Regions from separate parts of the Homo sapiens genome. Here region 2 is linked to region 1. A link means that fine-mapping ties the variant in region 1 to the expression of a gene that starts in the linked region. Tissue or cell type: whole blood. Region 1 holds a variant in brackets; the other region holds the start of a gene. All regions are shown on one strand. Distances are between the middles of the regions.

What was found. PIP is the estimated chance that this variant, and not a neighbour inherited with it, causes the effect.
Region 2: ADIPOR2 starts here. The variant in region 1 is fine-mapped to the expression of ADIPOR2 in whole blood (TOPMed, PIP above 0.99).

The regions. Positions count from the first base shown.
Region 1 is chr12:1,658,572-1,674,534 of GRCh38, reverse strand. MIR3649 (microRNA 3649) reads left to right here and starts at 14,155; the gene lies at 14,155-14,220. RefSeq lists an enhancer at 5,372-5,421 and silencers at 12,382-12,471, 12,562-12,661. The variant C/T (reference allele first, on the strand shown) is at 6,958.
Region 2 is chr12:1,681,424-1,697,386 of GRCh38, reverse strand. ADIPOR2 (adiponectin receptor 2) reads right to left here and starts at 6,317. Exons shown (of 8, transcript NM_024551.3): 1 at 6,196-6,317. It also overlaps the pseudogene LOC100533654. RefSeq lists silencers at 6,015-6,104, 6,125-6,424 and enhancers at 5,923-6,501, 6,585-6,634, 6,655-6,814.

The DNA of each region.
Region 1 (15,963 bases):
GCTAGGTGTTGGAGATACAACAATGACCAAGTTAGACAACGTGCTAGTTCTCATAGAGGACATTGTAGTGAGGAGTTTGGTGTGAATTAAAGATTCATGAATTCCAACTACTTTTTTTTTTTGCAGAAATAGACAAAGTGATCCTGAAACTCACATGGAAAAGCAAGGACCCAGAATAACCAAAACAATCTTGAAAAAGAAGATAAAAGTTAGAGGGCTCACACTTCCCAATTTCAAAACTTACTTTAAAGCTACACTAATGAAGACAGTGTGGTAGTGACATAAAAATAAACATGTATATTTCAATGCAACAGAATGGAGAGTCCAGATGTAAGCTGATACATCCATGGTCAATCTCTGACAAGAGTGGCAAGACCGTTCAGTGGGGAAAGGTCAGTCTTTTCAACAAATGGTGCTTGGACAACAGATATACATATGCAAAATAGTGAATTTAGACCCCCTAAATTCACACCTTCACACTATATACAAAAATAAACTCAAATGATCAAAGACCTAAATGTAAGAGCAAAAACTATAAAAATTCTTAGAAGAAAATATAGGGGTAAATATTTGTGATATTGGAATAGGCAATCATTTCTTAGGTATAATATCTAAAATGCAAGCAACCAAGGATAATTAGATAAATTAGGTTTCACCAAAAGTAAAGGCTGTTATGTATCAAGAAAGCGAAAAAACAACCCAAAATGGGAGAAAATATTTACAAATCATGTATTTAATAAGGGTTTTATATCTAGAATATATAAAGAGCTCCTATACCTCAACAATAAAAAGATAAATAACTCGGCTGGGTGTGGTGGCTCACACCTGTAATCCCATTACTTTGGGAGGCTGAGGAGGGCGGGTCACAGGTCAGGAGTTCAAGACCAGCCTGGCCAACATGGTGAAACCCCATCTCTACAAAAATATAAAAATTAGCCAGGCATACTGGCAGGCACCTGCAGTCTCAGCTACTTGGGAGGCTGAGGCAGGAGAATCACTTGAACCTGGGAGGCAGAGGTTGCAGTGAGCTGAGATTGTACCACTGCACTCCAGCCTGGAAGACAGACTGAGACTCTGTCTCAAAATAAATAAATAAATAAATAAATAACTCAATCTAAAAATGGGCAAAAGATTTGAATAGACTTTTCTTCAAAGAAGATCTATAAGAGGGCATGAAAAATGTCCAATATCATTAGTCATTAGGGAAATGAAAGTCAAAATCACAACAAGATACCACTTCACAGCTGGGCACAGTGGCTCACGCCTGTAATCCTAGCACTTTGGGAGGCCGAGGCAGGCAAATCACTTGAGGTCAGGAGTTCAAGACCAGCTTGGCCAACATGGTGAAACCCCGTCTCTACTAAAAATACAAAAATTAGCCAGGCGTTGGGGCAGGCGCCTGTAATCCCAGCTACTCAGGAGGCTGAGGCAGGAGAATCGCTTGAACCTGGGAGGTAGAGGTTGCTGTGAGCTGAGACTGTGCCACTGCACTCCAGCCTGGGCGACAGAGTGAGACCCCATCTCAAAAAAAAAAAGAAAAAAAAAAGGCAAATTATATGGGATGTAAATTTTATCTTAGTAAAAAACAAAATAACAGAAACAACACAAAAGATTAATGATATCTCACCCTGTCAAAGCAGGAAGGGATCTTAAATGATTGTCTAGTCAAACTGCATTATTTTAGAGAGAAAGAAACCAAGGTGCAGAGGAAGGAAGTGACTTATAAAAAGTGACACAGCTCGGGCCTGGCGCGGTGGCTCACACCTGTAATCCCAGCACTTTGGGAGGCCAAGGCGGGCAGATCAGTTGAGGTCAAGAGATGGAGACTATCCTGGACAACATGGTGAAACCCTTTCTCTACTAAAAATACAAAAATCAGCTGGGCGTGGTGGTGCACACCTGTAATCCCAGCTACTCCGGAGGCTGAGGCAGGAGAATCACTTGAACCCGGGAGGCGGAGGTTGCAGTGAGCTGAGATCACGCCATTACACTCCAGCCTGGGTGACAGAGCAAGACTCCATCTCAAAAAAAAAAAAAAAAGTGACACAACTCGTCAGCTGCAGGGTGAACATTGAGCCCCAGGACCTTTTACTTTTTTCTATATCCTTTAACATGTAAAATTTCAAACACATACAAAATTTCAAACACAAACACATACAAAAATGTCAAACACATACAAAAATAGAGCTAGCTCCCTGTATCTATACTCCAGCTTTAATAGTTATTAGTACACAGCTTTTTTTTGTTTTTTTTTTTTGAGACGGAGTCTCGCTGTGTCCCCCAGGTTGGAGTGCAGTGGCGCGATCTCAGCTCACTGCAAGCTCCACCTTCCAGGTTCACGCCATTCTCCTGCCTCAGCCTCCCGAGTAGCTGGGACTACAGGCGCCCGCCAACACGCCCGGCTAATTTTTTGTATTTTTAGTAGAAACGGCGTTTCACCGTGTTAGCCAAGATGGTCTCGATCTCCTGACCTCGTGATACGTCCGTCTCGGCCTCCCAAAGTGCTAGGATTACAGGCGTGAACCACCGCACCCGGCCCACAGCTTTAATAATTATTAAATAAGTATCAGTACACAAATTCAATTTTTCTTTTTTTTTCTTTTTAGACTGGGTCTTGCTCTGTCGCCCAGGCTGGAGTGCAGTGCACAGACTTGGCCCACTGCAACCTCCGCCCCCAGGGCTGAAGCAATCCTCCCACCTCAGCCTCCCAAGTAGCTGGGATTACAGGCCCACACCACCACGTTCAGCTAATTTTTGTAGTTTTAGTAGAGACAGGGTTTTGCCATGTTGCCCAGGCTGGTCTCCAGCTCCTGGGCTCAAACAGTCCACCTGCCTCAGCCTCCCAGAGTACTGGGATTACAGGTGTGAACCACTGCACCCAGCCACAACTTTAATAATTATTAAATAATTATTAGTACACAACCAATTTTATTTTATCTCCACCGTCACTCACTTTCTCCCCTCCCAGATTATTCTGAGATGTATCTCAGACATCATAGTATTCATCCACCAATACTGCGATATGTGCATAGTTTTTCATTTATTTTTCATGTATGATCTGTTTCTCATACACATACACATGCACACAAAAGAAAAAAAAAAGAGTGATCCCTCCAAAAAATGGAAAGCAATGGTGAGCAAAGAAACTAATAAAGCTTTAAATAAATCTAAACATGCATTCGCTGTATAACTGTATGTTACATTGATGATGGATATGTAAAGATATGAAGTATCACTGCAAAATAGCATGTTAGATAGGGTGGTGGTGTATGAAGTACTAAGTTCCTTGAGCAAGACTCCATCTCAAAAAAAAAAAAAAGTCAGGGTGTGGCAACAGTGTAATTGCTGGTGGCCTGACCATTTATGGCAGGATCTCAGCAGGTATGCAGAGCTACTATTCCGTGGGGAGGGAGTTGATGACAGCTAGTCAAGGTATGACAACTACATTCTAGAAGCTTAGAAAAGTTCCTGCTTTGGTAAGACTTGTTGATGGCACCTGAGCCACAGCAGTGGGGCTTAGGCTGAAGTTTCTGATCCCTGTTGTGGACCTGGGCAAGGGCCTGGTGGTGATGGGGAGCTTGCTTGGTATATGTCCAGCCTTAAAAGCTAGAAAAAGCAACGGCGGGAGCAGTGATGTCTGTGAAGCTGTATTGATAAAGTTGTTTTTTTTTAAAGGTGTAAAAGTAAACACATCTGAATCTCAGGGAAAAGCTACGCTACTTCAACTTCAGGATTCAGTCATTCCTGCTTGTTCAGAACCACAGGGTAAAATGAGCACTGCACTTACAAAGGGCTAATCACAAGCGAGGGCACTGTGGCGACCTTTCACCAGGTGTCAAGGTGTGGCGGCCTCTGTAGACCCATGACTCAGAACACCAGGCCAGGCACCATCTGGGAACACATCTGCGACTTCATATGAAAAAAAGGTGTAATTTAGTTGAAGCAATTAACTTAAAGTTGGTGAGTAAAGCCTTTTCGAATGAGCTGTGAGTGAGTGAGGGGGAGAGGATGCCCGAGGGGCAGTGTGGGGTTGCCTGCAGTGGAAGCGAGGCTGGCACTCTGCTACTGAGTGCCCAGGGAGAAGGAGGGGAGGACGCAGGCCAAGAACCTTTGGCCCCCAAGCAAGGCCTCCAAGGAAAACCAAAGGGCCGAGCTCGAGCTCCCCTTTCCTCCTGGTTTATTCTCTTTCCCTCAGGAGCCTGCCGGACTCCACCCTCAAATTCTCAGCCTGAGAAAGTAATATGATATTGGCACTCACCTCTCCAAATTCTTCCAGAAAGAGAGTCAGATTAGAGTGTGACAGGAGCACAGTACGCTTCTGGTCTGAGCTTTTGGAGGCCATATGACTCTAGAATGAGCCCGCCTGGTTTTTGTGAATGAGTCTAACTAAAATGAGTCCTCTTATTTTTTCACCAGAAAAAAACAAGATGTGTCAAGGGGCTCTTTGGGCTGTGAAAGGGCTGTATCCCAGCAACAGCTCATGATGTTTCTGACAACTTATTAGCATCTATTTGAGGGTGATTAAAAACATAATGTGGGGCCGATTGCGGTGGCTCACGCCTGTAATCCCAGCACTTTGGGAGGCCGACACGGGTGGATCATGAGGTCAGGAGTTTGAGACCAGCCTGGCCAATATAGTGAAACCCTGTCTCTACTAAAAATACAAAAAAAATAGCCTGGCATGGTGGCAGGTGCCTGTAGTCCCAGCTGATCAGGAGGCTGAGGCAGGAGAATCGCTTGAGCCCAGGAGGTGGAGGTTGCAGTGAGCCAAGATCACACCATTACACTCCTGCCTGGGTGACAGAGCGAGACTATCTCAAAAACAAAAAAAAACGAAAAAGCCATAATGTGTAAAGGATTCAAATTGTACTCAATTATTATAATAGCCTACTTCTCCCCATTCCCATTCCTCCTCCCTAAACCAGAGCTCCTGTTTGCCAGGCAAATAAGCTACAACTAAAATAAAAGGTCTTTTTAGACAAGGATCAAGCCAGATTAGGAATATTATAACTAGGCTTTCCAATCAATATCAGGACTTTCCATTTCTCTATCTGAGTCTGAAACTAATTACACTTCCAGGTCGTGGGGCCCCAGGTGCTGCTCTCGTGGCACCACTCGTGGGGCTCTAGGTCCAGAGGACAGTCTCTGCTGGCTGAGGCTGGAGGGACCATCTCATTGGTAGAAGTGGCATAGCATGACTTGGCCACTGGACATCTTGGCTGTCACCCAGACTTATTTCAAAGGCGAGACTAAAATAAAGAGGGCTGATCAGAGTGGGGGCAATCAGAGATTGGGCCATCGCTAGAGTTACAAAAGCAGCGCTGGCTACTGTAGGGCAGCAGCGTCATCTCCTCGAGATAGGACTCCCTCTGCCCCAGTTCTGTTCACCGTCCAAAGACCAGGGCCCTCCCTGAAGCCCAGCACTTGAGAAATGCTCGCTCTCACGTATTATGACTCTGGCTTTGGAAAGAAATTCAGCAAGGGTACTGGTTGAAAGGTCAAAAAGTGGTGAAATGCCATCTGCCCAAACGGAAGCAAGGGGTCGCTTGGATTGGGTAAAGGTTTCTTTTGTGGTTTTAAGCCGTTGGGTTGTTTTTCGTTTGTTTTTGTTTTGTTAGAAAGCACTGTGTCTGTCTGGAGGTCGAAGGGTCGGGTGGGTGTCTGCAGTGCGGCTTTTCTCCCTTGGCCAGTGGGGAAACAAAGTGGGTTTACTGGCCATTTCCGCTTTGTGTGAAGGAAACCTGAGATTCACTGCCTCCAGCACATGGGAGTTGTCTGTTATTTTTAGTTTAGTTCTGTTGTTGTTATTAGGTGTTTTTAAAACATATGTAAGTGTGTATCAAAGTTGTATTTCACAGTGTTGGCAGAAAATTTACAGGAAAAAGACAGAGGAGGGTTTAGTTGAAGATCAGGAGGAGGTAGTAAGACTGGTTAAATGTCTAGTGAAAGGTTTTAGGCATACCAGGATTGTCAGTCAACTGGGAGGGTAACTCTTTTATTTTTAAAATTGTGGTAAAATATGTATAAAATAACATATACTATTTTAACGATTTTTAAGTAGGCCTGGGCACAGTGGCTGACACCTGTAATCCCAAGCTTTGGGAGGCTGAGATGGGAGGATCATTGGAGGCCAGGAGTTTGAAACCAGCTTGGCCAACATAGCAACTTCATCTCTAAAAAAATAAAAATAAAAATAAAAGGTTTTTTTTTTTTTAATTATCTGGGCATCGTGGCACACTGGGCAAGTAGTTCCAGCTCCTTGGGAGGCCGAGGCAGGAAGATCACTTGAGCCTAGGAGTTCAATGCTATAGTGAGCTCTGATCACACCGCTGCCCTCCAGCCTGTGTGACAGAGCAAGAACCTGTCTCTAAAAAAATAACAATTTTAAAATGCTCAAGTGAACAGTTCTGTGCCATTAAGTGCACTCACATTTTTGTGCCACCATCACCACCATTCATCTACAGAAACTTTCTTTCTTTCCCAACTGAAACTCTGTCCCCATTGAACACTAACGCCCCATCCTGCCCTGCCAGCCACTGGTGGCCACCGTTCTGCTGTCTCTGAATTTGACTATTCGTAGTACCTCATATGAGTGGAATCGTAGAGAGAGTAGTCGTCCTTTGTGACTAGCTCATTTCCCTTAGCGCAACGCCTTCAAAGTTTATTCACGTGGGTAATTCGTTCTTTACGGTTTGTTTTTCATCGTTTGGACCCTCAGTTTTTGTTTCTTGTTGAGGATTTGGTAGTCTCAGATACTGAGGATAGGATTGCAGGCTGAAAGTCTGGCCAGGAGGCTTCCTGATCCTTCTCCTCACCCTAAAATATCTTGGCCACACTGGATATATATTTTTTTCTTTTTGAGATGGAACCTCCCTCTGTTGCCCAGGCTGGAGTGCACTGGCGCAATCATGGCTCACTGCGGCCTCAACCTCCCAGGCTCAAGTGATCTTCCTGCCT[C/T]ACCCTCCCAAGTATCTGGGACTACAGGCATGCACCACCATATCTGGCTAATTTTTTTTTTACTTCTTGGGAGAGATGGGGGTCTCACTTTGTTGCCCAGCCTGGTCGTGAGCTCCTGGCCTCAAGCGATGCTCCCTCCTCAACCTCCCAAAGTGCTGGGAGTACAGGCATGAGCCACCACGCCTGGCCCACACTGGACATTTCTTAGTGTTTTTTCCTGCCTGGGTCACTACCTACTTGGTGTGTTAATAGCTCTCAAGGCTCTTAGCTTGGCCCACATTGCTTGCTCCTCTGGGCAAACCATGAATATTTCCAAAGCAGACCAGCCTCTCAGGGGACTCTCTGTCTCTGTCTGTCTCTCTCTGCCTCTGTCTCTGTCCGTCTCTGTCTCTCTCTCTCCCTGTTTCCATCTCTGTGTGTCTCTGTCTCTCTGTGTGTGTGTGTCTCCATCTCTGTCTCTGTCTCTCTCTGCCTTTCTCTCCTCCCTCCTCTCAGCATCAGTATTTACCCACTGGCCTCAGGCAAAGGCTTCAGAGAAGGGAAAGCAGCCTTTTCTTTCCCCTTCCCGTCCTCTCAGGCACAGGAGGCATGCCTTCTGTTTGCTTGTTTTTATAATCATTCTTTGTAAGCAGAACATTCAAATGGCAAAATATATAAGCAGTAAGAACGTGCAATGAAAAACCAGTCTCCCCACCCACTTCCTTGTTGCCTTTTGCCACACCAGCCACTGTGACCTTGACTGTCTTTCTAGGGACATTTACACATAAACAAGCTCAGGGGGCCTCTTTTTACACAAAAGATATCATCTTATACCCACCCCCCTGTATCATGCTTTTTGGAAAAAATACATAAAAATAAGAGTGTAATAAATGAAGTCTCCACCAACCAGAATTGATAAAAAACATTTAGTATAGCTGTTTTTTTTCTTTTTTTACATAAAAATAAGTAAAATGCTACAGATGAAGTCTGAAATATTCTGTGGCCTTTGTGGTCAGTCCTGCATCCTTCCTCCCATCCTTAGAGGGGAGCGCTACTGGAAATTATTTACACCCTTTCTGTAATTTTTTATATGTCATATACATACATATATACATCTGTGAACAATATATAGCATCATTTTGCACAATAATCATTTTTAATATCCCTTCCCCCTACTGGCAGGCATTCAGGTTCTTTTAGACTTTGCTCCTCAAATAATGCCGCAGGAAATTTCTTGTGCCGATATCTTTGTGCACATGCGTGAGTGTATCTGTAGGATAATTTTGTAGAGGCGGGCTTACTGGATCAAAAGATATGTGCATTTGATAGTTTCAAAGAAAGGGCACCAATTTTTACTTCCACCAATAATGCATGGAACACCTATTTCTTCACATCTTCTTTCACATACAAATTTATCAAAATTTTTAATTTTTATTCATCTAATACATAAAAAATACCTCTTATACTTTGAATTTATGTATTGGAAACCATGTATTGGTAATGTATTAGAAATATAATAGAATTATTTCTTTTATTATAAGTGAGGGTAAGCACCTTCTCATGTGTTTGAAAGCCAGGCAGGCCGGGGGTGGTGGCTCATGCCTGTAATCCCAGCACTTTGGGAGGCCGAGGTGGGTGGATCATCTGAGGTCGGGAGTTCGAGACCAGCCTGACCAACATGGAGAAACCCCGTCTCTACTAAAAATACAAGATTAGCCAGGCGTCGTGGCACATGTCTGTAATCCCAGCTACTTGGGAGGCTGAGGCAGGAGAATCACTTGAACCTGGGAGGCGGAGGTTGCAGTGAGCTGAGATCATGCCATTGCACTCCAGCCTGGGCAACAAGAGCAAAAACTCTGTCTCGAAAAAAAAAAAAGAAAGCCAGATATATTTCTTCTTCTGCGGTTTTTTAAGGTCTTTTGCCCATTTTTCTTTGGGGCTGATTATCTTATTCACTCTTAAGTGTACTTTGCATGTGAAGAAAATTAACTGTCATATGTGTTGCAAATATTTTCCCAGTTAATTACTTATGACTCAGCTATTTTTGCCACATGGAAATTTTTAATTTTTATGAAGTCAATTTTATCAATACTAATGTTTTTAAGTGGTGATACATTTACTGTTTTCTTCTAATTTTCTTCATTTCTCCCCTACTTCCCATTTCTAACTCAAATCATACCTCAGATTCCTGGGTCTAGGGTGAGATCAACAGCTGGAAGCCACCACAGAGTTAATCCAGGTGAACCCTGGAGGTTCAACATAACCCCGAAGGCTCCAGGGGCCCTTGACTTAACTTTGCCCTACTGTATATTTATAGGGTATCCTAAATCTGCCCTAACCACTGACACTTCCTGGAGTTCTTTCAGTCTGAAGAAACTTCTGGTTCCAATTTGGTCTCCTTAAAGACCTCTGCCCCAGGCAGGTCTGCATCCTTGGAGGCACCATGGCAGGGCTGGCACAGGGAAGCTGGGACCTTAGTGACCTACTGCTGCTTTTTCATTCTTTTCACTCCCTGTGGAGCCGGGTTTCTTACTGGCAGAGAAGGGAAAGGGAGAAAACAAGAATGCACTCATGCTGTCGGCCTGGACTTGGAGATTATCAGTGTGGACTCATGCATTCCAATACACAAAGATGGAGAGAGAGGTACAGGTGTAAAAGTGTGTGTAATATTTTGAATCTACTTTTGTGTGTTCTTAATTTTTATTATTTCATTCATTTATTTTTGAAACAGGGTCTTGCTCCGTTACCCAGACTGGAGTACGGTGGTGAGATCATAGCTCACTGCAGCCTCGACCTCCCGGGCTCAAGTGATCCTCCCACCTCAGCCTCCTGAGTAGCTGAGACCACAGGTGCGCACCACCACGCCCAGCTAATTTTTCTATGTTTTTTAGAGACACGTTTACACCATGTTGCCCAGGCTGGTCTCAAATTCCTGGGCTCAAGCGATCCTCCTGCCTCAGCCTCCCAAAGTGCTAGGATTACAGGCAAGAGCCACTGCGCCCGGCCTTGTGTGTCTTTAAATGTTTTTTGTTGTTGCTGTTTGTTTGTTTTTTGAGACAGAGTCTCCCACTGTCACCCAGGCTGGAGTGCAATGGCATGGTCTCGACTCACTGCAAACTCCGCCTCCCGGGTCAAGAGATTCTCCTGCCTCAGCCTCCCAAGTAGCTGGGATTACAGGTGCCCACCACCACGCCTGGATAATTTTTGTATTTTTAGTAGAGATGGGGTTTCACCATGTTGACCAGCCTGGTCTCGAACTGCTGACCTCGTGACCCACCTGCCTTGGCCTCCGGAAGTGCTGGGATTACAGGCGTGAGCCACTGTGCCCAGCCTTTAAATGTTTTACATGTACATCCTTGTCATCGTTTTCATTTAATTACTCTCCTCTAGTTTGTAAGGGCAGGGCCATAGTGGGCCAGTCCCAAGGCCATGGTGGGCCAGTCCCAGCCATTCTTTCCCCTTCTCTCTACCCGAACACAAATGTCTGCACAGAACACCATCATTCAGCCATTGGGGATTAAAAATTAAGATCGAGGAAAAAGCAAAAGAAAACAAGATCATTATTTGTCATTGAGGACTGGGTGGGCATTCCCTCATTCTTCTTGCCTTCCATGGTCCATCTCAGCAGCTTGACATTCTGCACCTTCTATTAGCTCGTGGCCCGGCTGCATCCTCCCTACAGACGTTTTACCCCTAAGCAGCCTCCTTCCTTCCTTCCTCCCTTCCTTTCCCCCTTCCTTCCCTCCTGTTTTCCTCCTTCCTTCCTTCCCTCCTTCCCTCCTGTTTTCCTCCTTCCCTCCTTTCCCTCCTTCCCTCCTGTTTTCCTCCTTCCTTCCTTCCCTCCTTCCCTCCATCCTTCCTTTCTTCCTTCCTTCCCTTCCTCCTTTCTTCCTTTTTTATCTTTCTCCTTTCCTTTCTTCCTCCTTTAATTCCCTCCTTCCTTCCTTCATCAAATGTTTGCTGCACTGCTAACAGAGTCCATGCTGTGCTTGGTGCGGACAATTCTGTAGCGAACAGTGCGACAGATAACTGGTGCTGCCTTCAGCAAGCCTACAATCTAGCAGGCAGCCTGCAGTGAATCGGCCACTACATAACTCAGCACCCTCTTCCAGAGGCCATCTCTCTCTCCAGTGGCCCCAACTGTAGCCGCTCTCGAGCCTCCGCCATCAAACTGTGTCCTTAAGAAAATCATTGTTTTCTCCCCACCAGAGGAGAGAGCCGCTAAGTGCTCTGACCCCCTTGCTTCCAGCACGTTCATACGAATTGGGATTTGGTGGCCTCACACGCATAGGCTCACGATCCTCACAGGGGACAGGGAAGACGCCACGATCTGCATTTTACCGACAGGAGGCGCAGGAACTTGCCGGAGATCGCAGAGCAGGTTCGTGCCCAGGTGGTGGGAAGCGACTCTCAGGCTGGGAGAGACACTGAAGGCCGCCCCGTCCAGCCAGTTGTTTTCCCCGGGGCTCCTGCTTCTGGACGGCCTTCCCAGACAGGAGGGCAGGCTGGGGCGGCCCTGCCTCCCAAGGGCCGCGCTGAGTGCCCAGTGCACCCCTTCACTCCGCACTCTGCCCCAGCGGACCCCCGGCTGCCTCATGTTCGCGGGCAGGTGCGCTGCGGGGCGGGGCACGGAAGAGCGGGCAGCCCCTCCCGGTTAGAGGCCCTCCTCCCGGCCAGGGCCTGGGCGATGCGCGATAAGAAAGGCAGGGTCCCCGTCCTTGCAGCTGGTGGGTGAGGGGCTAACCGAGCTTCAGGAAGCGCTGCTTGTGCCCTGAGGGAATCTCGCGGAGGGCGAGCGGAGCACACACCGAGTCCTCTCTCCCGACAGCGGACCTCTCAGGAGGGAGGCGGGAAGTGAGGAGGGGGAGGCGGGAAGTGAGGAGGGGGAGGCGGGAAGTGGGGAGGGGGAGGCGGGAAGTGAGGAGGGGGAGGCGGGAAGTGAGGAGGGGGAGGCGGGAAGTGAGGAGGGGGAGGCGGGAAGTGGGGAGGAGGAGGCGGGAAGTGAGGGGGAGGCGGGAAGTGGGGAGGGGGAGGCGGGAAGTGAGGGGGGAGGCGGGAAGTGGGGAGGGGGAGGCGGGAAGTGGGGAGGGGGAGGCGGGAAGTGGGGAGGGGGAGGCGGGAAGTGAGGAGGGGGAGGCGGGAAGTGAGGAGGGGGAGGCGGGAAGTGGGGAGGGGGAGGCGGGAAGTGGGGAGGGGGAGGCGGGAAGTGAGGGGGGAGGCGGGAAGTGGGGAGGGGGAGGCGGGAAGTGAGGGGGGAGGCGGGAAGTGGGGAGGGGGAGGCGAAGGGGCGGCGGAACCTCCGGAGGCGCAGCTCAGGCAGAGCAGGCCGCGGCCACAGAGGGCTGGGGCTGGGGGCGACAGGAAGTCCGGGAGGGGAGAGGAAGACAGCGGTGGGGCCGCGAGGCCGGGAATCAGGAATCTGGGCAGGGGCAAATTGGCCCAAGTCTGCAGTGTTCTTTAGCCAGCTCTGCAGTGGGAGAAAACAGGAGAGGGCTGGACAGCGGGCGGTGCAGCGGGGGAAGGGCGAGAGGATGCACGTGTGACTCGCTCTGCGCCCGCGGAGGTGCCCGTCCGCTGGCATGGCCCGCGGGGTGGGGAGTCGCTGCATACGGCCCCTGAAGGCAGCTCCCGGCGAGGGAGGCGGAGCCATTTCCCGAGGGCGGAGCTGCGGCCCCGCCCCCCGCCTCCCGCCGCCTCCCGCCTCCCCCCGCCCCCCGCCCCCCGCCGCCTCCCGCCTCCTCCCTGCCCCGCTCCGAGTCCGCCGCGAGGCCTTCGAGGGGAGAGGGAACTCGAGGCTGCTGCTGGGGCGGGGTTGGGGTGACTGGCAGTGGGAGAGCCAGGCAGGGGAGGGGCGAAGAGGAAGTCAGGGAGGGCACATAGCTCCGGGAGGGCCGTGCTGAGGCGGAGGGCGCAGCAAGGGTGGGGGTCGCAGTGGGCTGCAGGGGGATCGCTGAGCACGGAGGCTTCAGGTCCCGAAGGAGCGGTGGCGCGGTGACAGGGGCCCGGGCGCGGCTCAGCTCGCTGGCGGATGAGGGGCTGGGAGGAAGACGTCCATGCGCCCCGAACCTCAGTGCTTTGCAGAAGGGCCCCAGGGTGGGCGGAGGACAGGGACCAAAATGCAGAGAGGATGGTCCGGCTGGAGAGACGGGTGGGCGGAGGACAGGGACCAAAATGCAGAGAGGATGGTCCGGCTGGAGAGACGGGTGGGCGGAGGACAGGGACCAAAATGCAGAGAGGATGGTCCGGCTGGAGAGACGGGTGGGCGGAGGACAGGGACCAAAATGCAGAGAGGATGGTCCGGCTGGAGAGACGGGTGGGCGGAGGACAGGGACCAAAATGCAGAGAGGATGGTCCGGCTGGAGAGACGGGTGGGCGGAGGACAGGGACCAAAATGCAGAGAGGATGGTCCGGCTGGAGAGACGGGTGGGCGGAGGACAGGGACCAAAATGCAGAGAGGATGGTCCGGCTGGAGAGACGGGTGGGCGGAGGACAGGGACCAAAATGCAGAGAGGATGGTCCGGCTGGAGAGACGGGTGGGCGGAGGGCTGCAACAGTGGGGTGTGAAGACCCTGAGAGCAGCACCTCCCGCCCGCATGGGGCTGCCAGGAGGCGAAGAGCCTTTACCCAGAGGGTTTTCAACTGAATGACACTGTCAAAGAAAAGCCAGGATCCACTAAGGCAAGAAGTATTAAAAGTATTTTAGGGAAAGTCATTTAAAGCTCTATAACATTGTATTTTCATGGAATCTTCTAGATTCTTCCCCTAGAATCAGAGTTAGATTTTCCATTAAGTGAATGAAGCTCAAGTTTCAGGGCCTCTCCCTCGCCTTCTAAGGCCCTGTTCATAATTCCGTATTTGTAATTATTTAAACTGCCCCACCCTGATTATATAACTTTTAGGTCCCACAAAAGCTTAGCCAGTCTCTGCCTTAGAACTCCACGAGTTGGGAGGATGAACGAACTTCCACGTTTTGATTTCCAAACAATTTCCCTACCCTTGCATTGTTAAAAGATAAACAGGAATAAGTGTTCTGGCTGTGAGTGAATTTTTTTTCTTAACATGTTTTGGCCTGGATACTATCTGAAGGTGTTACCCAAGCAGTGGGGTGACTTTGCTGACGACACAGTTACTCAATACTCCCCAGCTCAGGGTGAAGGTTAGGTGGCACGTTGGCGGGACATGTGACTCACATGCGCAGGTGTGTTCCTTGGGAGGAAGGCTTGGAACAGGCACCTGTGTGTGCCCAAGTGTTTCTAGCAAACACAGGGACCTGAGTGTCTAAGCACAGGCCCACTTTACAGGGGTCTCCTGAGAACTCCTCCCCCTCCTGAGAACTGTGCCTTCCCAGCCAGAAGTCACTCATACAGAATGTTCCCAACTTATGAATGGGCATTGTTCTCAGAAAGAGAATTTGTAAGTCAGTTGTTTAGAACGGGAAGGCATCTCCCCAGATAAACAAGTGTATGTGTGATCTTTGTTATTCAGGAAAGCCTAAAAGAACATCTTGTGTCCCAGAAATCAAGGACTGTACAATGGGAACAGAAAACTCCAGCTGGTGGAATCATGTGGCCCTCAGAAAATGCCTTCCAACTTCTAGCCTGAGATCCTGGGAATCTTCTCCACTGTCACAGACCTTCTGTGAGAAGGGGGGACGCTTCCCAGCTCCACGTCCCTGATGTGGCTGCCATGTCCTGGGGCAGAGGCCAGTGAGGAGAAGCAGCTGGGTGTAGGCGGCCAGGCCCTGGGGGCTAGAGGGGGCAGAGTCCATTCCCAGAGCTCCTTTCAGAGTCCGCTCCCTGTCCATGTCCTCTGAGGGCCCAGGGGTGGGCCTCCTTGCCTTTGCCTTCTTGAAGTTTCCTTGGCCGGGAGCAGTGGCTCACGCCTGTAATCCCAGCACTTTGGGAGGCCGAGGCTGGTGGATCACTTGAGGTCAGGAGATAAGGACCAGCCTGGCCAGCATGGTGAAACCTCGTCTCTACTAAAAAAAAATACAAAAATTAGCCGGGTGTGGTGGCGCGTGCCTGTAATTCCAGCTACTCAGGAAGCTGAGGCAGGAAAATCGCTTGAGCCTGGGAGGCAGAGGTTGCCGTGAGCTGAGATCACGCCACTGCACTCCAGCCTGGGTGACAGAGTGAGACCCTGTCTCAAAAAAAAAAAAAAAAAAAAGTTTCCTAAGTCTTTGATTCTTAGGACAAAGTGGTAAACAGACTGGGGATTTAAAAAAAAAAAAAAAAGACTCCCATGTGATGGCGGGGTGGAAGGTGGAATGCTCACTTTTCAGGTACTGGCCTTCTCAGGAAAGACCAAGACCAACATAGAGAAGGATGGTGGATTTCTGGGTATACAAAAGACCAAACAAATCCAGATCATCAAGGTTAGACCCCTTGCATTTGTGGTTGGCTTCAGTTGAGATGATTCCCAAGAGCTTACATAATAAACTTTACTTTTTTAAAAAGCATATTTTCATTGATCTTGCCATGATATAAGCAAGCTATATCTTATACACTTATCTATATCTATGTAAGATATACCATTACCCTTTTCTTTTTTAATACAGGGTCTTGCTCTGTCACCCAGTCTGGAGTACAGTGGCTCGATCCTAGCTCACTGCAACCTCAAACTTCTGGGCCCAAGTAATCCTGCTACCTCAGCCTCCCAAAGTGCTGGGATTACAGGCATGAGCCACCATGCCCAGCCTCAATATTTTAAAAGTTTATATTTTACAAAAGGCTTTCACATCCATATGATTTAATTTGAGGTAGAGAGAGTATTATTTCTGTTTTATTGCTGAGGAAACTGCCTGAATCACTTAACTAGTTGGTTGGGAAGCCAGGTCCTCTGTACTGAATCTTGTGCCCTTGCTGTTTTTAGAGGCTGATTAATCCCTGAAAGGGAGATGGGACACACAGAACCCTCTAGCTGAAATGAATCTCCAGAGAATGTCTGGTTTTCTCCCTGGCTCTAGACTCTACTAAATTCTAAAAACATCTAAATGCTCTTCTTTTCTTAAACTTCTCTGGGGAATGA
Region 2 (15,963 bases), 23 kb before region 1:
GAAACAAATAGGACAGACTCAGAATCTGAGGATAAAGTGACAAGAGACCTACAAGTGCAGTATGTCACTGGGAAGAGTGGCTCCAAACACAAAACACTGAAAAGGTTATGAAAAGTGCCCAGGAAACAAAAGAAGAAAAAACTCACAGTGTTTAACTTTTAAGCTATTAGCTTTATTCATGATCCTCAAAGTTTTACCAAAACACTCCTGAAGCACACAGCTAGAAATCTCTAAGCAGAGGTTTGAGTTAACATGATGCTCATAAATCTTATCTCCAGATTGGCAGAAATTCATAAGCCCTCTAACTTCTATGCCTTTGGGCAAAAGTTTCTGCTGCTGCACCACAGAGAAGTAACAGAAATCACTGTTTGCTAAACATGCATTTCATCACCTGTTAGTCCCAGAGATCACTCAGTTATTGCTCATGACTGTGACCATCCATTATGTTATGGACAAGAACTTTAGGGAAGACATGACAGTCCAAATCAGTGCTATAAGAGGTAATAGCTCAATGTCCCCTAGCCATGACAGAAGAACTTCCTCAAGACCTGTCCCAGTATAAAACACACAAGGATAAGAATATGATGCTGTCTACTATAACTGTGATTCAGTTCTTCCAAATCCTCAGATGATGCAGAATTCCAGGGTAAGCTGACAGAGGCCCCAGTAAAATCAACAGTGCAAGAATATGGCCAGGGACAATGGCTCCTGCCTGTTAAATCCAGCTATTCAAGAGGCTGAGGGAGGAGGATCGCTCGAGGCCAGGAGTTCAAGACCAGCCTGGACAACATGGCAAAACCCTGTTTCTACAAAAAATACAAACATTAGCCAGGCATGGTGGTGCATGCCTGTAATCCCGGCTACTTGGGAAGCTGAAGTGGGAGGATCACTTGAGCCCATGAAGCGGAGGTTGCAGTAAGCTACGATTGCACCACTGCACTCCAGTCTGGGCAACAGAGTAAGACGCTGTAACCAAAAAAAAAAAAAAGAAGGAAAAAAGAAAAGAGAAAGAAAAAGAGAAGGCTGAAAATGATAAAGATGGGTGGGGAAGCACCAGTCTCAGTGAGGAGGAGGGTGCTGCTGGTGAATCTGTTGACAAGTAGAAACTGCAAGAAATCTCCTAGAAGCTGAACAGCACCCATGGAGGAGTGAAAAGCCAAACTAAACGATGACTTCTAGAAAATCTGCATGGCTCAACTAAGGAAAAAATTCAGTGCTGCCCCCAGGGAAAGCCCAAGAGGAAATGTATTGAAATAGTGATAAGGAGCAAGTAATTTTTTCTAACATTGATGACAGTCATAAAAAGCCAAAGTCTGACAAGGAGACATGACTAGCAACTGCAATGGCTGGACAGACCAAAAAGAATTTATGAGGAAGAAAACCAAAATGAATCATTTTCCAAATCCAGAGATAAAGAGAAAAAAGAAGAACTTTGATGATTAGGTATAGCCAGAATGTCCCGTCAAAAAAAATAAGCATTCCTTTGGGGAAAAGCTGCTGCCACTATGAGATACACTTAAAAAAAAAAATAGAAAAATAAAAAGAGAGAAAAAGTAACATCCAAGCCAGCCTTCCATTCCCAAAATAAATTGTCATTAATCTGAAAATTAGTAAATCAAGAATGTTTACATTAGAAAGTCCAAAAGCACTATATCCTGAAAACCACCAAAAAAGGTGAATGACTGCTGAATGACGGGTTTCGTCATTTTTTTTTTTTTTTTTTGAGATGGAGTTTTGCTCCTGTTGCCCAGGCTAGAGCGCAGTGGTGCAATCTCGGTTCACTGCAACCTCCACCTCCCAGTTTCAAGCGATTCTCCTGCCTCAGCCTCCTGAGTAGTTGGGATTACAGGCGCGCGCCACCATACCCAGATAATTTTTTTTTTAATATATTTTTGGTAGAGAGGGGGTTTCATTCATGTTGGCCAGGCTGGTCCCGAACTCCTGACCTCAGGTGATCCACCTGCCTTGGCCTCCCAAAGTGCAAGGATTACCGACGTTAGCCACCACCCTCAGCCCACTTTTTTTTTTTTTTAAGAGACAGAGTCATGCTGTGTTGCCCAGACTGGTCAGAGTCATGCTGTGTTGCCCAGACTGGTCTCAAACTCCTAGCCTCAAGCAATCCTCCCACCTCAACCTCCCAAGTAGCTGGAACTACAGGCGCAAGCCACCACTGGGCTTGATCCCATTTTTGTAAAAAATAACTCTCGGCCAAGTGCAGTGGCTCATGTCTGTAACCCTAACACTTTGGGAGGCTAAGGTGGGAGGATCGCTTGAGCCCGGGAGGTCGAGGCTGCAGAGCCATGACGGCACCAGTGCACTCCAGCCTGAGATACAGAGTGAGATCTTAAAAAAACAAAACAAAAAAAAAAAAAAAACTGCAACACAAAGAATAAGCCCTATGTAAACTATAGACCAATAAATAACAACATATTGATATGGGCTCATCAAATGCAATAAATGTGCCAAATTAATGCAAGATGTTTGCAATAGGAGAAACGAGGGAAGGGAAGGGAATATGGGAACTTTCTGTGCTATCGGCTCAAATTTCTGTACATCTAAAGCTGCTAAAAAAAAGTGTAATTTTTAAATTCTGAATATGCAGACAAATCTGCAAATAATTACTTGTATATGCACACAAAGAGAGGTGAAAAGACCTATATCAAACTGTTGCCCCTGGTTATCTACAAAGGATGAAAACTGGAAACTAGCGCATGAGAAGGAATTTTTTTACATTATACAGTTGGCCCTCCATATCCATGGGCTCTTATGTCTGTGGATTCAACCAAGCTTGGATCCAAAAAGTTTAATATAGCATCTGTATTTGAAACATGCAGACTTTTTTTTCTTGTCTTTATTCCCCAAACAATACAGTATAACAACTATTTACATAGCATTTATATTCTATTAGGTATTATAAGTAATCTAGAAATGATATAAAGTATTTGGGAGGATATGCACAGGTTATATGCAAATACTATGCCATTTATATCAGAGATTTGAGCATCTGTGCATCTTGATATTCACCAAAGGTCCTAGAAGCAGTCCCTACAGACACCAAGGGATGACAGTATATCTCTGGACTGTCTAAACTTTCTACACTGAGCAATAATGTAAGTAGAGGCTCTGTAGCATATTGTTAAGAATTTGGGTTTCTCAAATCAGACTGCATGAAATCAAATCCTAGCTCCACCATTTGCTAGCTGATAAACTTCCAACAGTTACTTAATTTTTCTCCTTGCCTTAGTTTCCTCACCTGTAAAACAGAAATCATAGTATACACTCACAGAGCTGCCACAGCAATTAAATAATTTCATACACGTAAAGTAGTGGAAATTGTCTAGTACATAGTAAGTGCTCAATAAATGTTAACCAGCATCTTCATTACCAAGCATTTATTATTCCTGGATTTTCTTTTTAAATCTTGACTGGTAAGACTAATCATGAAAACCCGGTTCATAAGCCCCTTTCTAGAAAGACCTCCAATGCAGAAAATACAAAAGCAATCAAAATCCAAATACAAATAATGAAATACTTCTTAAAAAAGCAGATTACAGGGCTGGGCACGGTTGCTCACACCTGTAATCCCAGCACTTTGAGGGGTGAGGCAGGTGGATCACATGAGGAGTTCGAGACCAGCCTGGCCAACATGGTGAAACCCCGTCTCTACTAAAAATACAAAAAAAAAATTGGCCGGGCTTGGTGGCGCACACCTGTAATCCCAGCTACTAGGGAGGCTGAGGCAGGAGAATTGCTTGAACCCAGGAGGCAGAGGTTGCAGTGAGCCAAGATCGTGCCATTGCACTCCAGCCTGGGCAACAAGAACGAAACTCCGTCTCAAAAAACAAAATGAACAAAAAAAAAAAAAAGCAGATTACAAACCAACATTTATCAATTTGAGTTCATTTATATAAAAAATAATCACCAACAAATTCTATAATCACAGAAAAAAAGCCCCAAGTGGTGTACTTGTAAATAACTTTTACTTTCTCCTTTACAATTTTCTGACTCATTTAAATTTTCAACATTGACTATGTATCATTTTTAATGGAGCTCGGCAAACTTTTTATATTAAGGTCCACATAGTAAATAAATATAAGGTGTTACAGGCCACATGGCTCTCTGGCACAACTACTCAACTCTGCTGCTGTACCCCAAAAGAAACTACAGACAATACCTAAACGACTGCATATGGCTATGTTCTAATAAAAACTTTTTTCTTCCTCTTTTTTTTAAGACGGAGTTTCGCTCTTGTTGTCCAGACTGGAGTGCAATGGTGCAATCTTGGCTCACTGCAACCTCTACCTCCCGGGTTTAAACGATTCTCCTGCCTCAGCCTCCCGGGCAGCTGGGATAACAAGAGTGCGCCACCACACCCGGCTAATTTTTGTAGTTTTAATAGGGACGGGGTTTCACCATGTTGGCCAAGCTGGTCTCAAACTCCTGATCTCAGGTTATCTGCCCGCCTCGACCTCCCAAAGTGCTGGGATTACCAGCGTGAGCGATCGCACCAGGCCTAATCAAATCTTTATTTACAAAAAGAGGCAACTGGCAGGACTGGGCCTGCAGGCTTTAAAATCTGTCAATCCCTGAAATAAAGAATAAAACAAAATTATTTTCATTTTAGGAAACAAAATGTGATTTATACTAAAAAAAAAAAGTGCACCAGCTAAATTGATACTATTGATAGAAAAAACCATTTATTTATAAATTCATACAAGGAGCCTAGGGATAGAAAAAAAAAACAAACTCTCTTTTAGGCTCTGGAAATCCTACTCCCATTCCTAGTGTCAAGTGAAAAGAGGAAATCTGCTAAGCAGACCAAAGTCTAGATAGGAACGTATACTGGAGGACAGACAGTTACAATCAGAAGTTAAAAGAAATATGCCTTTCACATTTAATTTGCAATTTTTTCAAATTTCATAATTCACCAACAAGCAGCTGCCACATGTGTGGAAATCTTTACTGATGAAATAATTTTAGTTGCAGATCATCACAATCAACACTCTGACAACAAATTTATCAGAACGGATGAAAACATCTAGGAATTACCTAAGAGTCGTTTAAGGAGACATAAGGGTGGCCTTTGATAAGAGGTCACTTCAAACTTTCAGAACTGACAAGACGTATAGCCTCCCCCCAAAAAATAATGCTATGGGTAGATGGATGCTTTTTTCTGAAGGAATTTTTAGCATTTCATTTGGAAAAGTTCTGTGATCAAATAATGCTAAATGTTATGACAGCTTTCTTGGCGTTTAAAGGGATTCTCTGGGTGAGGGGAAGGGGTGATAAAAAAAAAAAAAGTCTGCTTTTGGAACAGAAATGGGGGACAATAACCAAGGCTCAGAAACCCAGAGTCAAAAAATTAAAAGAACATCTTATTTTAAAAAAAAAGTCAACAACCTGCAATGAAGTCACCGTACCCCCATAAAATCCCAACTGTGCATTTAAATCTTTCTACCAAAATTCACTTTTGGACCATCTTATGAAGTTGTCAAAATTTCAGAGGCAAACGCTTAAATCAAGATCAAAAGCCAGGAGGAAAAAAGAGCTAACAGTTTCCAACCCAAACTCTCTCCGAGCCCCCTAAAAACTGATTTATAACCCTGTCATCGGTAATTTTAGAAGAAGCGAACACTGACGGACGGGGGCTTGGGAAAACAGGACTCCAGGTACCAAGCAGGCTGCCTGACGCGCCACCTGAAAAAGGTGAGGGAACTCTTCCCCACCCCAGTCACTGTGAAAGTAGCGCTGAGAGAGCCCATCCCAAGCCTCCACCAAACAAATTCCTAGAAGTGATAAAAACAGACAAGAGACGAAGAGGGGCGGGCAGATCCTCTCCGCGGGCAGGGAGCTGGAGCAACTGCACCCGAAGGTGAGCAGAGGGCAGCAGGCTCCGACCCTCCGCCGCGAAAGGCGAGGCGAGGGGAACAGCGGGCGCCGGACTCCTCCGACAGCGGTCGCAAGGAGGGCGGCTCCAGGTCCCCACACGGCCGACCCTCAGGCCAAGGCGCGCCGGGCGGCAGGTCAGAGTTAGGAATCAAGTTGCGGGCCGGGCCGAGAGCGCGCTCTCCCGCCCGCGCCAGGGACATTCGCCCCTCAGCTCTCACCTCCCCCCGACCCCAAGCTCTCCCTCTGCGCCCAGGAAACGGCGCCCACACTCCAGAGACCCTCACCCGGAGCCCGTCGCCGCCTCACCGCGTGTCTCGGACTTCTTGGGAGCCACCGCTGAGGGGAGGGGGGAGGAGGGGGGAACGGAGGAGGGAGGGGGCCAAGCCCGGTGTAGCCGCCGCCGCTGCCGCCGCCGCGATGCCGCTTCTGGAATCGCGCTCTCGCCGCCGCGACAGCGACCGCCGCCGCCGCGTCTCCCCGCCCCCACGACCGCACGTCGCCGTGACGCGCATCGCACGAGGCGGTTCGAGCCAATAAGACCACACGCCGTGCGCAGCCGCGCTGTCCTAAACCGGAAGCCGCCCCTCTGACCGCTCTAAAACCTGGGTGCATCGTGGGAGCTGTGGTTCGGCCAGGAACTTAGCGAAAACTATACTGGGTGTTGAGGGCCGGAGGAGCGTGCGCTCCTTAGGCGCTCACACAACTCCTCGGAGTTTTTTCTCCCACCGAAAAAGGAAGCAATTTGGAGCTGAGGAGGAGGGGGCCGCCCCGGCTCGCGGATGCTTTTCGCAGTCTCTATGGATACTGGCTACACACTTTGGGCAAGAGCCAGAATTTGAGGATTTAGGCTGGATCGTGTGTCTCTGCCAAGGGCTGATAGGATGCTGAGCGTCGTCTGTGAAGACTGCGGAAAGAAATCCAAAAGCATTAGCCCAGTTTTGCCCAGAGCAATAGTGTTTGCCTTTTATTACCTTATTAAAGATTATGATTTATGCTCTACCACTTCTATTTTTTTTAAAACCCAGTCACTCTTAAAATACATATAATTCAGAGCGATTTTTAAAATGATGTTAATGTAATGGTATATCAGAACCTACTTAAGCACTAAATACCTGCGTCCATTTACCCAGAATGAGTAAGTAATTTTCCACAAGTCATCTTTACGTTGAGTTCTAACTTCTTAGAAGCCAAGAACAGATTTGGTTACGTACTTATTCTATAAGAAAAGTGAATATAAGAGTTAGTCTGCGTAGAAAAATAGTTCTTTACATTCAGTAGGAGGGGGAATTTATCACATTCTTAAGGCGTAAATGCCTTAACTATCAAAATTCTTGTTATTGACTAAAGGAAATCCATACGATTTAGGGAAAGTCTGTGCCCACGGCTTACTGTCCTTACCTTTGGACCACAGCAAGAGATAACAAAGGGTGCAGGGAAAAGCTGACAGGTCTTGAGGGAGCTGGAGTCGGATATATGACGAAAAAAACAAAAATACAGAAGTCTTCATTATGGAAATGTAAGTTTTAAAAAGTAAAGCTACTAAAATCACAAAGAACATGATTAAGATGGCAATAATACAGAACTAAGGCCCACTCATTTAAGCTTGAAAGAGATAAAACTAGTAGAAATTAAAATTAGGAAATAAATGTTAAAGGAACTAATTTCCTCCAAGGAGTGGTTTACATTGAAAATATAATTTTTTTAAGTTTACATAATTTGTGAAAGACATAATAATAATGACTTCTATGTTCCCAGGTAAAGATGTAAAGCTTTTGAGGTTGAAATCAAGGAAGACAATTGTACACCTCCTCAGCACATCAGAAACAATACAGGCATTTCTGGATTGTGAATTTGACCCGTTATACCAACTCACATAGAACAGAGATAAGAAGTATAAGATTCTTAGGCTTAATAAAGAGTCTACTAAAGGTGACAGAACTAGAGCGAAAAAGATAATTTTCTTAAAAAGAGATTCTTCAAAGATCTCCAATCTTTCCTGCATCCCTTTCTCTTAAAGACTGGTTTCCAGGCCAAGCGTGGTGGCTCACACCTGTAATCCTAGCACTTTGGGAGGCCGAGATGGGCAGATCACTTGAGGTCAGGAGTTCAAAACCAGCCTGGCCAACATGGCGAAACCCCGTCTCTACAAAAATACAAAAAATTAGCCAAGCATGGTCGCGCGTGCCTGTAATCCCAGGTACTCTGGAGGCTGAGGCAGGAGAATCACTTGAACCTGAGAGGCAGAGGTTGCAGTGAGCTGAGACCGTGCCACTGCACTCCAGCCTGTGTGACAGAGCAAGACTCTGTCTCAAAAAAAAAAAAAAAAAAGATTCTGGTTTGACAAAACGAAGGGCTTTAAGAAGCTACCTCTGGAACAGTTCACCGTGTGCTGAACCAGATGAAAGACAGACTTACCATTTCCCTAAAGTTTCACATCTTGTTCTCGGTTACCTTGATCCCATTCACATATCACTACTGCCAGTTCCTGATGCTTATATAGTGATGAAACAAACCACATCATTTCCTCAAAATACCCACACCTCCTTAACTATTGAGGATGTTGCCACTGTCCCTGACCTGAGCACCTGAGGAACATTCCCCTGATCCCCACATCCATAAGGCTGGCTTCACCCTTAACCCTTATCTAAATGTCACCATTAAATATTCCAAAGCAGAATTTTCAGGCCCTCTCCCTGACCATACTTCAGTTACTAAACTTTATATATTGTCTTCTGATTAGCTGTCCAAAAAACAAGAAAAACTCAGTAAAATTCTCTAACCTCCAGCATCAGCTGCGTATCTTAGAATTTCTGTTCTCTCCATTCTTGGGGTATCACACTACTCCACAGGAGGGTAGAGCCCTTTATCTTCTGCAGCACCAAAAAAAGATTCCCTTCCACCCCTATCCCACATGCCAGTCACCAGTGACCCAACAGTACCCTGTGGCTCAACTAGTCTGATGTAGTCATCTCTGCAATTATCAGATGTTATTGAAAAGGATGGCGCATCACTAGGTGAGTCACATCCATAATCCAGTTGTGGCTCCAGTGACACTATAGTATATTGCTGACATGATGGACAGAGTTAAACTCCATTGTGATATCCAAGGCAATAGCCAATGAGATTCGCATATGTATCTAAGGCATGGTAGTGCGCACCTGTAGTCCCAGCTACTCCAGAGGCCAAGGCTGGAGGATCACTGGGCTCAGGAGTTCCAGGCTGCAGTGAGCTATGATGGCACCACTGCACTCCAGCCTGGGCAACAGAGTGAGACCCCATCTCTAAAAAAAAAAAAAAAAAGAAGAAGAAGAATATGTATCTAAAGCTAAAAGCAAATGAACGTTCAGCTTTAAATTTTTTTTTTTTTTCATAAAAAGAGAGTCTCACTATGTTGCCCAGGCTGGTCTCAAACTCCTGGGCTCAAGCAATCCTCCTACCTCCCAAAGTGCTGGGATTATAGGTGTGAGCCATTGTACCGAGCCAACTTTCAAATTCTGAAAGAAAAAATACCCTAGATCCCAGTGCAAATTTAAACTTGAGTTTGAAACTGGTTTATATTGCTTCTCTTATAGAGAAAAGACAAGCTATCATTTTTCTTATCAGAATCGTATCTATTTTTAAGAAGGAAAAAAGACAAATTACTTCGCCAGTGAAAACCAGAATTAGAGTGTTCTTTCAGAGACCTGTGTCTGTGAGTTTAAAAAAAAAAAATTACAAAGGGAAATTAACAGCTTCGTTATTACAAAATACTTAATTCTAGCCTAAACTCTTCTTTTCAGCTCCAATATTTATCAGCTTTCAAAATATAAACATTAGAACTGAGGGGGAAATCTGGACAACATAGAAGATACACCATAAAAAAGATAAATCAAAAGAAAGGGCAAGGAATGTCGTCACATCAGTCCCTCTGGTTGTCTCATATAGTGTCCATAGAACAGTGAAATCCAGCCAGCTATTTAGGATTCAGTGGTGTTAGATGCTTTGCAAATAGTCTAGTAATCTACTTGAGAAAATTAGAGGGAAATACATAAATATCTGTATTCCATCTTAATTGCAATTAAACGAATCACTGATATCAAATTGTTATGTTGTTTAAAACTACATTAATCAGGGCCGGGCGCCATGGCTCACACCTGTAATCCCAGCACTTTGGGAGGCCGAGGCGGGCGGATCATGAGGTCAGGAGATCGAGACCATCCTGGCTAACACAGTGAAACCCCATCTCTACTAAAAATACAAAAAAATTAGCCAGGCGTGGTGGCAGGCGCCTGTAGTCCCAGCTACTTGGGAGGCTGAGGCAGGAGAATGGTGTGAACCCGGGAGGCGGAGCTTGCAGTGAGCAGAGATGGCGCCACTGCACTCCAGCCTGGGCGACAGAGTGAGACTCCGTCTCCAAAAAAAAAAAAAAAAAACAAAACAAAACAAAAAAAAAAACTGAAGAGAAAGACCAGTATAAACACTCCAATAATTACATAAATTACATTCGCAGCTCCTCAAACGCAGATTAGATAACATAGTCCTGCAGATTGAACTTAAGATAGAACATCATTACTGGCTGTGCTGCTGACAAAGGCATTGTTTATCTATGGCTTATGCATTAGCTCTTGTTAAGCTTTGATACCTTCATCAATAAAATGAAGATGTCGGTGAATACATGTTTTAGATGGACAGAAAGGATAAATACAACTTTAGGAATGTACTTGCCGGTGGGAAGGGGTGAAGAATAAGCCTGGGAGCTATGGAGAGATCATCTTTATCTGTAATATTTCATTTCTTCTATATGAAAAAGATGAAGCAAGTAACAAAACATTTAACATTTATGAATCCTAGGTGGTATGTACATGGACATATATTAGAGGCTTCTCTGAACTTTTTTAGTAGTTGAGAAAAACAACTTTATTGAAGTATATTTTATATAAAATGCACCCTCTTTTTAAGTGTACAGTTCAAATGAGGTTTGAAAAATGTATACTCCCGTGGAAGCATAACCTCAGTCAAAATATACAACATCTCCAACACCCCCCGCAATCCCCCTGTGCCTATTTGGAGTCAGTATTTCCTCTCCCAAGCCTGGCTCCAAGCAACCACTGATATTCTTTCTGCCACTATAGAATGCTTTTGCCTCTTCTAGAATTTCCCATTAATGGAATCGTGCGATATGTACTCTTTTGCTCTGTCGACTTTCTCTCAGCATGGGGTTTTTGAGTTTCATTCATGCTATTGCATTCATCATAGTTCGTCACTTTCCGTTGCTAGGTAGTATTCCATTTGTTTATCCATTCACCTATTGATGAATGATTGGGTAATTTCTTGTTTTTGTTGTTGTTGTTTTGTGAGACAGGGTCTCACTCTGTCACCCAGGATGGAGCGCAGTGATGCAGTCGTACCTCACTGCAGCCTTGATCTCCTGAGCACAAACAATCCTCCTATATCAGCCTCCCAAGTAGCAGGGACTACAGGCATGTGCCACCATGCCTCGCTAATTTTATTATTTTTTGTAAAGACAGGGTCTTGCTAAATTGCCCAGGCTGTCCTCAAACTCTTGGCCTCAAGCGATCCTCCCATGTTGGCCTCCGAAAGTGCTGGGATTACAAATGTGAGCCACTGTGCCCAACGTCTAGTCCCTGATTGTTATAAATAAAGGTATTGTGAACATTTATGTACAAATCTTTAGAGGACATGTGTTTTCATTTACTTTTGATAAGGGGGTGAATTAGCAAAATCATATAAATTTATGTTTAACTTTATGAGAAACTGCCAAATTGTTTCCCCATTTTACACCCTCACCAGCAATATATGAGATTTCCAGTTGTTCCACATCCTTGCTAACCCTTAGTATTGTCAAATTTTTTATTTTAGCTATTCTAGTGGGTATGTCAGTGTTATCTCATTGTGGTTTTAATTTGCCTTTTTCTGATTGTTAATGATGTTGAGACTTTTCATGTGTTTATTGGCCTTTCTTATATTTTCTTTTGTGATGTGTCTGTTCAAACTTTTTACCTATTTTTTAAAATGGGCTGTTTTCCCTCTTATTATTGAGCCATAAGTGTTCTTTTTTTTTTTTTTTTTTTTGAGACAGAGTCTCACTTTTTCACCCAAGCTGGAGTGCAGTGGTGCAATCTCTCCTCACCGCAACCTCCGCTTCCTGGGTTCAAGCAATTCTTATACCTCAGCCTCCCAAATAGCTGGAATCGCAGGTGTGTGCCACCACACCAGGCTAATTTTTGTATTTTTAGTAGAGACAGGGTTTCACCATGTTGACCATGCTGGTCTCGAACTTCTGACCTCAAGCGATCTGCCTGCCTCGGCCTCCCAAAGTGCTTGGATTACAGACGTGAGTCACCATGCCTGGCCATCAGTGTTCTTTATATATCTTTAGATACAAGTATTTTGCCAAAGTAAAAGGCAAGCAAAAAATTCTTTTAAGAATGCCAGGATTACATAATATTTCAAAGTTATAAAGGGTTGTTTCCATTTAATCTCTCCTTTGCTGTGAGAATGAAAATAGAAACACAAAGTTTTCATTACCTTAAAAATAGAGAGTAATAAAGATGCGTATTAGAAGCTACAACTACGGAACAACAGGAAATACAGGTGAAAACAATAAAGAAAAATGTCATTTCTTAAGTAATTTAGAAGCACCCAGTAATTAAAAATCTGTCATCTTTTTATTAAGAAAAAATTCAAGACAGCATCTGTTCTACTCAGTGACTGCTTATGCGCTCACCCACACACACAGAACTGTAAGCCAAAAAAAGAGCATTTTATTTGTTGTGCTAAAATTTTAAATCCATAATCTAAAGAGGTTTATTAACCTTGCAATATCTCAATGATGTATAGCTAAACTCAGAACTCAGGACCAGGTTTAGTCAGGATAGTTTGATATAAATACTTTCATCAAGTTATACAGGATGAATCCCTGAGCCCTTGAGGTCACAATCTGGTGAAGTGACAATTTGCAGAAATAAGTTGCAAGGACTGGCAGGCATTTACGGTGGAGGAAGAAGAACTGATCTGGAATTGAATTCCAATGATTGTGACTAAATAATCACTGAGGTAGGGGTTGAGATTGTTCTCATAACTTTGTTTCTCAAAATTTTTTTTTCCTTTTCTTTTGGTTTAGATTAGAAGCAAAAGCAAAACTGGGTAGGAAAAGCAGGCTATAGCAAAAATAAAATTCTTAATGAAAAATCCAGACTATCAAAAGTCTTACTCCTTCCCCTCAAACTTTCTCTAATAATCTCATATGCCTTGGATGTCGTCAGCCAAGTCTAGCCACACCTGAGGTATTGCGGGCAGGCCCAAGACAAGCGTAAAACAAAAGAGGATAGGGGAGAAAGAGGAAAACAGAAAAAGAGTAAAAGAGCTCAAAGAAATGCTGCTAGAGATGCAACATAAGTGCTGTCAGTTGCCCATCTAGGAAAGCAAGCCGAACACTTTTAAAAGAGAATTGGGGCCAGGCACAGTGGCTCACTTTGAGAGGCAGAGGCGGGCGGATCACTTAAGGTCAGGAGTTTGAGACCAGCCTGGCCAACATGTCGAAACCCTGTCTCTAATAAAAATACAAAAATTAGCCAAGCATGGTGGCACACACCTATAATCCCAGCTACTCCGTGGCTGAGGCACAAGAATTGCTTGAAACCAGGAGGCTAAGGCTGCAGTGAGTTGAGTTCCCACCACTGTACTCCAGCCTGGGCAACAGAACCAGACTCTGTCTCAGAAAAAAGAAAAGAAAAGAAAAGATAATTGGCCAGGCATGGTGGCTCACACCTGTCATTCCAGCACTTTGGAAGGCCAAGGCAGGAGGATCACTTGAGCCCAGGAGTTCAAGACCAGCCTGGGCAGCATAGTGAGACTCCATCTCTACAGAAATTAAAATAAAAAGCCAGGCATGGTGGCTGGCACACACCTGTAGTCCCAGCTACTCAGGAGGCTGAGGTGGGAGGATCACTTGAGCCCAGAAGATCGATACTACATTGAGCTATGATCATGCCACTGCACTCCAGCCTGGGTGACAGAGGGTGACTCTGTCTCTTAAAAAAAAAAATGAGCCAGGCGCAGTGGCTCATGCATGTAATCCCAGCACTTTGGGAGGCCAAGGTGGACAGATCACAAGATCAGGAGATGAAGACCATCCTGGCCAACATGGTGAAACCTTGTCTCTACTAAACAATACAAAAAATTAGCCAGGCATGGTGGTGCACCTGTAGTCCCAGCTACTCCGGAGGCTGAGGCAGGGGAATTGCTTGAACCTGGGAGGCAGAAGTTGCAGTCAGCCGAGATTGCGCCATTGCTCTCTAGCCTGGGCAACAGAGCGAGACTCCATCTCAAAAACAAACAAACAACAAACAAACAAAAACCCAACATTGCTCTTCCTTCTTCCCAAGCAAATGAAGAAAATAGGTGTGAGATTCTCAAAAGTCAACATCTAGAGAGCTTATTAAGAATGTTAATTCCAGCTGGGCACGGTGGCTCACACCTGTAATCCCAGCACTTTGGGAGGCTGAGGCAGGAGGATCACTTGAGTCCAGGAGTTCGAGACCAGCCTGAGCAACATAGTGAGACCCTTTTAAAAATAACCAGTGTGAGCACACCTGTAGTCCCAGCTACTTGGAAGGCTGAGGTTGGAGGTTTGCTTGAGCCCAGGAGATTGAGGCTGCAGTGAGCCATGATCAAGCCACTGCACTCCAGCCTGAGCAACAGAGCAAGATCCTGTATTTAAAAAAAAAAAAAAAAAAAAAAAAAAGGCAATTCCCAGATATTATCCCAGAGATTCTGGTAGGCCCCAAAAGTCAGATTTTTTTTTTCCAGTCAGATTCCAAAGATTCTGATTCGTGGGCTCCATGCAGGCCTGGCTTCCTAGGTGGATGACCTATGCAGTTAGTTGCTCGGGGCCCTGTACTCGAAAGTGCCCTATGCTTGGGTTTTGTTTTTTGTGTTTTTTTTTTGAGACCACATTTCGCTCTTCTTGCCCAGGCTGTCATGCAATGGTGCGATCTCACCTCACTGCAACCTCTGCCTCTGAGGTTCAAGCGATTCTCCTGCCTCAGCCTCCCAAGTAGCTGGTATTACAAGTATGCACCACCACACCCAGCTAATTTTTTGTATTCTTAGTAGAGATGGGGTTTCACCATGTTGGCCAGGCTGGTCTTGAACTCCTGACCTCAGGTGATCTGCCCACCTCGGCCTCCCAAAGTGCTGGGATTACAGGCATGAGCCACCGCGCCTGGCCCCTATTCTTGGTTTGATGCTCTGTTGTTACTGTCTTGAAATTTTTAATAACTTTTGAATAAGAGACCCTTCATTTTCCCTTTGCACTGGGCACTGCAATTTATGTACTGCAATGGGAGTTAGACCTTAGACTTCAGTCTTTTACTGCGGAAAATATTCAGACAATTACCTACATATCTATTGGATTTTAAGCCTGATACACAGCATCTGAATTAATTCAATTTATACAATTTCTACTTGGCACTTTGGAATCAGGGGATCCTTGAATGAGCTTTTTCCAGAGGGAGAGCCCAGACAGAGAAGTACCTGTTGTTACAGGAAGCAAATTCCTGGGGGCAGTGGCTTCAGGAACTGGCAGTTATTTGTGCAAGGAAGGGATAAAGAAAAAAAGTAGAGACCCCAAAAATAATACATGAAAAAAACATCATTCTCAGGCATTTGAGGAGAGGCAAAATTGACCCAACAAAGGTGATCAGATAGCCCTGAAACTCAATTATCTGAAAACTTTGGTCATTAAAAGCTAGAAAAAGTCAAAGACCTTTGGAATAAATTCTAAGCTGATTTACTTTGCCTAACCCTTTCAGCTGGGGAGGTCAGTAGGTGGAGATGGAGATACAGGACATGTCTCTTAAGACTGCCAGAGTGTTTTGTGGCAGAACTAGGAGAGACGAGCTTTAGGTCAGCTAATAAAAGTTCCCATTTCCCCACTTGCTGTCTATCATGGTAGAGCATCAACAACACACATTCCATGGGGAAAAAACAAACCGTGGCAAACAGCCAGTTCCATCCAAGGCTAAAAAATAGAATCAGAATATATTTCAGCTAAATCTAAAAAACAAATTG